Linked DNA regions of Homo sapiens: region 1 is linked to region 2. Evidence: fine-mapped expression QTL. Tissue or cell type: visceral fat. Region 2 holds a variant in brackets; the other region holds the start of a gene. All regions are shown on one strand. Distances are between the middles of the regions.

Region 1 (4,389 bases), 38 kb after region 2:
AAAAGAAAAGAAAAAAGAACTGAAGTTGTTTACTTGCTCTCATTCATGCATCCCGGAGAAAAAGGTTTGAGTGCACATCCTGGATTAGGCACTGAGAAAGGCACTAGCTGGACAGGTGGTGATGAATAAAACAGACAGTAAATAGAAATTACATCATAATAATGTGTCATATATTTTAAAATAGCTACAAGATATTTTAAATGTTCTCACCACAAAGAAATGACAAATATTTGGGCCAGACGCGGTGGCTCACGCCTGTAATCCCAGCACTTTGGGAGACCGAGGTGGGCGGATCACCTGAGGTCAGGAGTTCGAGACCAGCCTGGCTAACATGGTGAAACCCCATTTCTACTAAAAATGCAAAAAATTAGCCGGGCGTGGTGGTGCACACCTGTAATCCCAGCTACTTGGGAGGCTGAAGCAGGAGATTTGCTTGAACCTAGGTGGCAGAGGTTGCAGTGAGCCGAGATCGTGCCACTGCACTCCAGCCTGGGTGACAGGAGCACAACTCTGTCTCAAACAAACAAACAAAAAACAAAAACAAGAGAAATGATAAATATTCGAGTGATAAATATGCTCATTAGCCTGATTTGAACACACCACAATTATACACACATTGAAAAATCACATGGTACCCCGTAAATATAGACAATGATTTGTCAATTAAAAATGAAATAACACTTAAAAAATAAAAAAGTAAAAAGTAAAAATTACACCAATAAATATAAGAGGTACAAATTGTGCTAAGTGCCCTGGGGACACAGGAAAGGCGGGAAAACCCAGGGCTATATGCATGAGAGTTACAAAGGGAAAAGGACAGGAGGGAGGCAATTGCAGGAGGGGCTTGGGAGAATGCATGTCCTTGGGTGCAGGTCACAGGAAGGAACTCATGAGCTTGATTCAGGATGTGTTGAATTTTCGGGCCGAGACACGTCCAGTCTGCGGAAGGCTGGACATCTGGGACTCTGGCATCATGGCTGGGTTGAAGGCAGAGGATGGTAATCACTAAGGAGCCGGCTGTGGTTAGGCCACCAGCATGGATGAGACTCCCCAAAAGGAAGCTGCAGAATGAGAGGCAGGCAGAGGAGAGGAAAGAAGAAAATCACAGAGGTGGGGATGTCTTTGCATCCGTGTGTCTCCAGTGCCCAAAACAGGGCCTCGCGGAGAAGAGGTGCTCGGCACCTGTCTGTTGCCTGGCGGGCTGAATGAATACATGGGCGACTGTCTCAGTGTCGCCTTAGTTGTGTCCCTTCCTCTCTAGAGCTCCGTTTCCCTCTGACCTGGGTCGGGCGGGCAGCTGCGGCTGCTGAGGCTCGGTGGGGCCCCTCCAAGACGCGTGTCCGCATCTGCCCGCCGGGCGTCTGCGGGGTGCAGCGTCCACTGGAGCGCGACAGCCCCTGGGACAGAGGAGGACAGTGGCCTCGCTTCCCTGTGCGATCGCCCAGGAGCTCCGGGCCGGAGAGTGCGAGCGGGGAAAAGGGGTCCTGCACCTAGAGTGGGGCGGACGTGGCGAGGAAGCCAGGGGGGACCGGGAAGCGAGGCCCGCGGTGCGGAGGGCGCGGGGCGTGGGGGGACACCTCTCGGAGAGACACCGGAGGGGCGGAAGTAAGGAGATGGAAAGGAGAGGGAGATCGGGGAGATAGACCTGAGAGACCCAGAGGCCTGCAGAGAGTTTCATCCGGGACCCTTCAGAGCCCAGGAAAGAGCAGATGCGGACGCGGGAGGGCGCCTTACGCCAAAGCGGGCAGCACCAGTGACCAAAACACGCCCCGCTTGGCAGCCCCGGGACGCACCTCTGCCTCGGCAGCGCAGGAGAGGCTTGGACAGCGCGAGATGCTAGGGCCCAGGCTGCCCCTAGAGGGCTGGCCCGAAGCGTTGGAGTCCAAAGACGCCTCCCACCGCCGCCGGGTGGCAGAATTGGGGGCAGGCGCGTCCCACAGACCCCGAGGGGTGGCCCCGCCCCAGGGCCGCGGGGAGGCGCCCCCGTGCGGGGCGGAGTTGTCACCGCCCCCTCCCCAATCCCCGGGGACTGTGGCCCCTTCTTAAGCCCGCGGCGCCTCTAGCTGCCCCTCACTCGTCTCGCCCGCCAGTCTCCCTCCCGCGCGATGGCCTCGGCGCTGAGCTATGTCTCCAAGTTCAAGTCCTTCGTGATCTTGTTCGTCACCCCGCTCCTGCTGCTGCCACTCGTCATTCTGATGCCCGCCAAGGTCAGTTGCATCTCCAGGCAGCCCTTCGGACACCCGGCGTCCTGTGCCCACTAACGGGCACCGATCCCGGGAGCCCTGAGCTGGAGCGCACGGATTTCGCGGGGAGCACAGCTCTCCCGGGGCGCGCGCACTCAGGAGCTCCAGGTGCCGGATGGGAGGTGCCCTGTAAAGAATCTGAGGGGCATGGCGACCCCAGGGCGCACCACCCTTGGGGTTTACAGATCCCAGGGCGCAAGAGCCGTCCAGGCAAGCACGGAAACCTCGAAGTGAGCACAGATCTCAGCCACACAGATCCCAGCCTTAGGCTCAGCCCCTGGCTCCGAATCGAATCTCCCACAGTGCATAACCCTGTTTCCCCCCAAAATGCCACCTGCGCCAACAGGGAACCTGGGAGCTTGCCTTTCCCTCTCTCTCTCCTGTCTTTTCCCTTCGCCAAAGAAGACTTCAAGCTGTAGGTGGCTTCTGCCGTCAGGAGGGACCTACAGGAAAAAAATCATCACCCACGTGGATCCTGCGCTGTCTTTGCCACTCTCTGGCCCTTCCTTGGGCCTTAGTGTCTCTATCTATGATCCACATTCCTTCCAACCTGGAGAGCCACATCTGATTCATAATCCTGCTCCAGGCTGCAGGCAGGTTGGGGTTGGCCTGCTTTGCCTCCTGCCTGCTGGGGCTGTAGCAGGAGGCGGGACACATTCCCAGAGCTCGCGCCTTGGGTGGCAGGACCTGGAGTTGCAGGGAAGCTTCCTCCCAGGCCCTAGTCTCCTAATGCTTCTGTGAGGGAGAGAGAGAATGAATGGCCTTGGCCGCAGGGTGGGCGCAGGCTCCACTGGGCTGTGCACAGCCAGTTTGGCGGAGGCCCAAGCCCTTTGAAGCCTTTTGTGGCTGCTGGCTGCTCCTTCCTCGTTCCTTCTTTCAGCCCTTTCACTCTCAGCCCAGACAGGAAACCTCCAGCTCCCCACCTCCCCTCCCCAGGCAGGTTTGGGAAACAGAGGAGCTCTTCAGGGGATGCTCTGGGGGGGAGCTCTAGAGGAAGGGAGTGCACTGGGGTGTCAGGAAGCCAACCTGCAAGAGAACTGGACTTCCACCATTCTGTCATCTGTGTGACTTTAGCCAAGTGCCTGTGCTCTCTGGGCCTTGGTGTTCTCATCTGTACAATGGGGCTAGGTGGTTTGGTTCTGACACTTTAAGGCTTTGGGAATCAAAAGGGATTAACGTTAGTTCCTAGGATGGGGGAGGGGGAGACTGGGAGGAGCCCTTGGGTGGGCCTAGCACAGGCCCTGGATGGGTCAAGGACAGCAGATCCAACTGTGGAGGCTGTGCAGTTGCCACACCAACTGTGGGCAGCCACACTTCCTCTGTAGCAAGAAGTCTGGGGTTGTTATTGTCCAGGGGAAGTAGCCAGGCAGGAGAGCTGCGATTTCAGCTCTGCTGGTAGGGAGTGATGTTCCCTGGAATGATTATAGTAGCTTGGCTGACCTTCCTGCCACAGGAGACCCCACTCACACACACACACATACACACTCTCTCTCTCACACACACACACTCACAAACACACACAGACACACACACAAACACACAGACACACACAAAACACACGCACAAACACAAACACACACAAAAACACACGCACAAACACACACCCAAACACACAAACACAGACACACAAACACACACACAAACACACACACAAAACACACAAAAAACACAAACACACACATACACATACACACACACACACACACACACCCTGAACTGGAAACCCTAACTCAGTGTGTGTGTATGTGTGTGTATGTGTGTGTGTGTAAGAGAGAGAGAGAGAGAGATTAAGCTGTCCTTTGAGTGAGGACCAGGGAGGGGAAGAAGAGAACCCAGGGAGAGTCCTTCCAAAGGCTGCCTTCACGAGCTTTCCTTCTGGCGGGGTTGGGTGAGGACCCTGGACCTTGTCTTCTTGTTTTTTCCCTTTCTGCCTGTTTTGGTCACCCTGCCCCCACCCTCCATGGCCGCCCCATTGTGCAAGGAAACCCAGAGGGTACACAGCACGGGCAGGGCAGCTGGGAAGCTGGTGAGAAGCTGGGAGGACCTTGGCAGCCTGAGCAACACAGTCCTTGCCAGGAGGTGACTCCCAGGGCACGCCACCCTCTGCCAACACCCAGGCCTCTCTCCTCACCGACTGTCTCCAGTT
Region 2 (4,389 bases):
TCGGGGGGAAAGGGGAGCAGGAAGTCCTGGCTGGACTAGGACACAGGAATAATACACCCCTCCGTGCATTGTTTTGAAGATCAGAAGAGAAATTGTGTGAAAGCTGTACTTGTACAGCATGGAAGACAGGAAAGAATATTTAAAAAGGATTGTTTTAATAGTTTGGCTTTGAGAAGGGATCTTATTTAGGCTTTCTTCTTTTAAGGGATCACTATGCTAAGGAAGATGATGTAACGACAGAGATATTTCACTTCCCAGACAAAAATTATATGGTGCAATTGCACACACTTCTGTCGGTGGTGTCTTTAGAAGAATCCTGTGGTCAGAGTGGGCCTGAGTCCTGGGAGATGTGATCATATAGTCAGACTCCCCAAGCACAACGTGTTTGGATGGGAGTTCGTTTGTCAGACCACAGGAAATTGCATCAGATGACTAGTCTCTGGATGGCATTCAAGCCTGGGAATATCTGTGACTGTGTTTGGGGAAGACTCTAGGCCTGGCTGGGCAGCAAAGACGGGGAATGACCTGCTGGCTGCTGCTTAGTTGGCATATGAAGGGGAAGGAAGCTTGTCATTAAACTCATGGCAAGAAAGAGCAACTCCATGGCATTCTGTCTGTGTGGGGAGTGACCAGTACTTTTCTCTTCCTTTCTTTCTTTGAGAAGTCTCTTTTCACACATTCATAGTTTTGTTTTTGTTTTTTTCTTTTTCCTGGTTAAAACATCTCACCCACTTCCCCTGCCAACCCATTCCCGTCCAATCAGCAATCACAGTCCAAATGTCAAGGTCTCTTCCCTGATGTTTACAAGGGTGAGTGTTATGAGCCTTCTCCTCTTCCCAGATTACACATATTGGGTAAAGAGATGAAGTCTGTCTCTGTCACTCAGGCTGGAGTGCAGTGGTGATCATAGCTCACTGCAGCCTCGAACTCCCAGGTTCAAGCAATCCTCCTGCCTTCACACAGACTACAGGCACACACTACCATACCTAGCTAACTTTAAAAAAAATTGTAGAAATGGGGTCCCACTATGTTACCCAGGCTGGTCTTGAACTGGCCTCAAGTGGTCCTCCAACCTCGGTCTTCCAAGGTGCTGAGATTACAGAAATGTGCCGCTGCATCCAACCAATTTTTTAATAGCTTGATCATGGTATGGTCCCCTTGGTTGCTGCAAATCTCATGGAACTCAGGACAAATGACCATATATGTCAATTTTTTTGTTGTTTCTTTTTATGGTGGAGCGGGGGAGGTGAAAGAGAAAAAGTTTAGAGCTTCAGGGTCTTTTCACTCAGAATTTGGGGTGAACATACTCATATGGTTAAGTTGTGGTAATGAACAGCCACTCAGACTCTCATTTTAGGGAATAACTAGTGTTTTAATTTTTAAAAATGGAAACTTATGTTTCTTCCTACCCTGTCCTTGACATCACGTGGTCTTTCTTACAATGATTCACACTGGCTCCAAGATATTGTGTCCATCTCTTCTTCTTCTTCTTCTTCTTCTTCTTCTTTTTTTTTTTTTTTTTTTTTTTTTTTTTTTGAGAAGGAGTCTCGCTCTGTCGCCCGGGCTGGAGTGCAATGGTGCCATTTCGGCTCACTGCAACCTCCACCTCCCGGGTTCAAGCAATTCTCTGCCTCAGCCTCTTGAGTAGCTAGGATTACAGGCGTCCACCACCACATCAGGCTAATTTTTGTATTTTTAGTAGAAATGGGGTTTCACCATCTTGGCCAGGCTGGTCTTGAACTCCTGACCTCGTGATCCTTCTGCCTCAGCCCCCCAAAGTGCTAGGATTACAGGCATGAGCCACTGGGCCCGACCTGTCCATCTCTTCTTAATGTTCCATTTATAAGGTCATGCTGATACCTTAAAATTGGCCATAGTGAGAGTATTTAAACCGTGGAAATGGGCAAATGCTACAAATCGAGTATCTCCCCATCCCCAAGATCTGGCTGTTAAATACTTAGCAGCTCATCATTGTTTTTCTATCTCAGTAGCGACGGCTCCATGCAGAAGGCCAGGGTTATGTCTAAAAAGAAAAAGACAAAGTTAAAGAAAAGTTTACTGTTCCTTAATTATCTTGTTATCATGAAGATACAAAAATTCATTTGGAAGAGAGGTTGTAAGGATCAGCTTTTACATTGACATGTGAACTTATTTCCTCCAAAACAAAACGAATCAAAGGAAGGATATTAATTTGTTTGAGCAAATATGTCAGTATTTGTCAGGAAAAAAAAATTCAATGTCACGCCAAGTTGGCAGGATATTATTTTATAAAGCAGAGGGCATAGTCTGGGTTGAATTACT[C/TC]CCCTATTCAAGTTTGTTATTACAAATTGTATTCGTGGAGAACAGCCTACTATATTCACTACTTAATTTTGATTGCTGATTAATGTTTTTGATAGCTAAATAGCCTATATACACCTGGCCCAGGGGCTACAATAACAAACAAAATGAAGTCTCAGCTCCTAGTGAGCTTGAATAGCAAGATATAATCTCACCCATGCATAGATATGATCTATTTTAATTGGAGTAAGTGGAGTGGTCAGATCATATCACCTTCATGGAAAGGTAAGACATGAGGGAGTCTAAATGTGTGTGTGTGTGTGTGTGTGTGTGTGTGTGTTGAATGCTGGAGGTGAGGGTGGTATGAGATAGGAAGGACATTTGAGGCAGAAGGCAGAGTACAGGGGAGTGGAACAGCATATTACTTTTGGGTAGATATATACCAAATATTTCATATGAGTATGGAAGCAATGGGAATGGATGATCTATGCCTTTTCTTCAGCAAGCAGTAAGTTGGGGAGCTACTTCCAATTCCATATTTTTTTTATGGTGAAAAGATATACATATATTTAGAATTAGCCAGCTGGACTCAGTTTAGATGATCCCAATTTCGTTGGTAACGTCCAAAGCATCGTAATCAGGAGCCAGTTGAACATATGCCTTCTTCTCTCCATCAGGCTGATCAGGGTGTTGACTGCGGCCACATCAATGTCACAGAGCTTCTTCACGGCCTATTTGATCTGGTGCTTTTTGGCTTTAACATCCACAATGAACATGAGTGTGTTGCTGCCTTCTGTCTTCTTCATGGCAGACTCAGGGGTCAGCAGAAACTTGATGATAGCATAGTGATCAAGCTTGTTTCTCCCAGGGGCGCTCTTCTGAAGATATCTGGGCTGCCTCAGGAGTCACAGTGTCTTGGGCGGCCAGAAGGTGGGTGGATCTTCTTTTCTTGTGGATCTTCTTTTTTATGTGGCTGTGGACACCTTTCAACACTGCCTTTAAAGCCTTTGCTTTGGCTTCTGCTTTAGGAGGGGCAGGAGCTTCCTTCTTCGCTTTTGGCGCCATCTTGTGAACAGGGTCCAATTCTGTATTTTAATTGGAGTGCTTAGTATATTAACATTTAATATAATTGTCGATATGGTTGAATTTAGGTCTGCAACATTATTGTCATTTTTCCTGTATGCCTCTTGTGTTTTGTTCCCGTGTTCCTCTTTTCTTGCCTTCTTTTGGATTCTTTGAATATTTTTTTGAATTCCATTTTAATTTATGCTTGGGGATGCATCACCTTCCTAGCACATTGATGTATGATCACCTGCCAGGTAGCTCACCTGAGCTTTAGTGTCCAGAGTTTTTACTGAAGGTCTTTCCATACATTTTAATTTCCCTTCAGCCTAAAGCACTTTTTATTTTGTAGTGTAGGTCTTTTGGCAATGAATTCTTTTTGTTGGTGGTGGTGTTTTTTGTTTTGTTTTGTTTATTTGTTTGTTTGTTTTTGAGATGGAGTCTTACTCTGCCACAGAGGCTGGAGTACAATGGCATGATCTTGGATCACTACAACCGGCACCTCCTGGGTTCAAGTGATTCTCCTGCCTCGCCTCCTGAGTAGCTGAGATTACAGGCATCCACCACCGGGCCTGGCTAATATTTGTATTTTTAGTAGAGACAGGGTTTCACCAGGTTGACCAGGCTGGTCTCAAACTCCTGATCTCAGGTGATCTGCCCATCTCAGCCTCCCAAAGTGCTGGGATTACAGGAGTGAGCCACTGCACCCAGCTGGCAATGAATTCTTTTAGATTTCTTTTATCTGAAAATTCCTTTATTTTGCCCCAATTCTTGAAGGCTATTTTCATTGGAAGTAGAATTCTGGGTTGACAGTTTATTTTTTCTTTCAGTACATTACAAATGTTATTTGGCCTCCATAGTATCTGGTGAGAAGTACATGGTCATTTGAGTTGTCATTCCCCTGTATGTAATCTGTCATTTTTCTCTGACAGGCATCAGGTTTTCTTTTTATCTTTGGTTTTCAGCAGTTTCATAATGATTTGTCTACACATAGATTTCTTCATCTTTATCCTGACTGGGGTTTGCTGAATTTCTTGTGCCTGTAAATTA

What was found. PIP is the estimated chance that this variant, and not a neighbour inherited with it, causes the effect.
Region 1: it holds the start of SLC13A5, and the variant in region 2 is the best candidate, but not a certain one, in a credible set for the expression of SLC13A5 in visceral fat (GTEx, PIP 0.85).

The regions. Positions count from the first base shown.
Region 1 is chr17:6,711,050-6,715,438 of GRCh38, reverse strand. It overlaps SLC13A5 (solute carrier family 13 member 5), which reads left to right and starts at 2,070. Exons shown (of 12, transcript NM_177550.5): 1 at 2,070-2,207. The coding sequence starts at 2,106.
Region 2 is chr17:6,748,671-6,753,059 of GRCh38, reverse strand. It overlaps the pseudogene RPL23AP73. Among named protein-coding and RNA genes, the nearest start is that of XAF1, 5.2 kb to the left of the region's middle. RefSeq lists enhancers at 336-630, 656-950. The variant C/TC (reference allele first, on the strand shown) is at 2,302.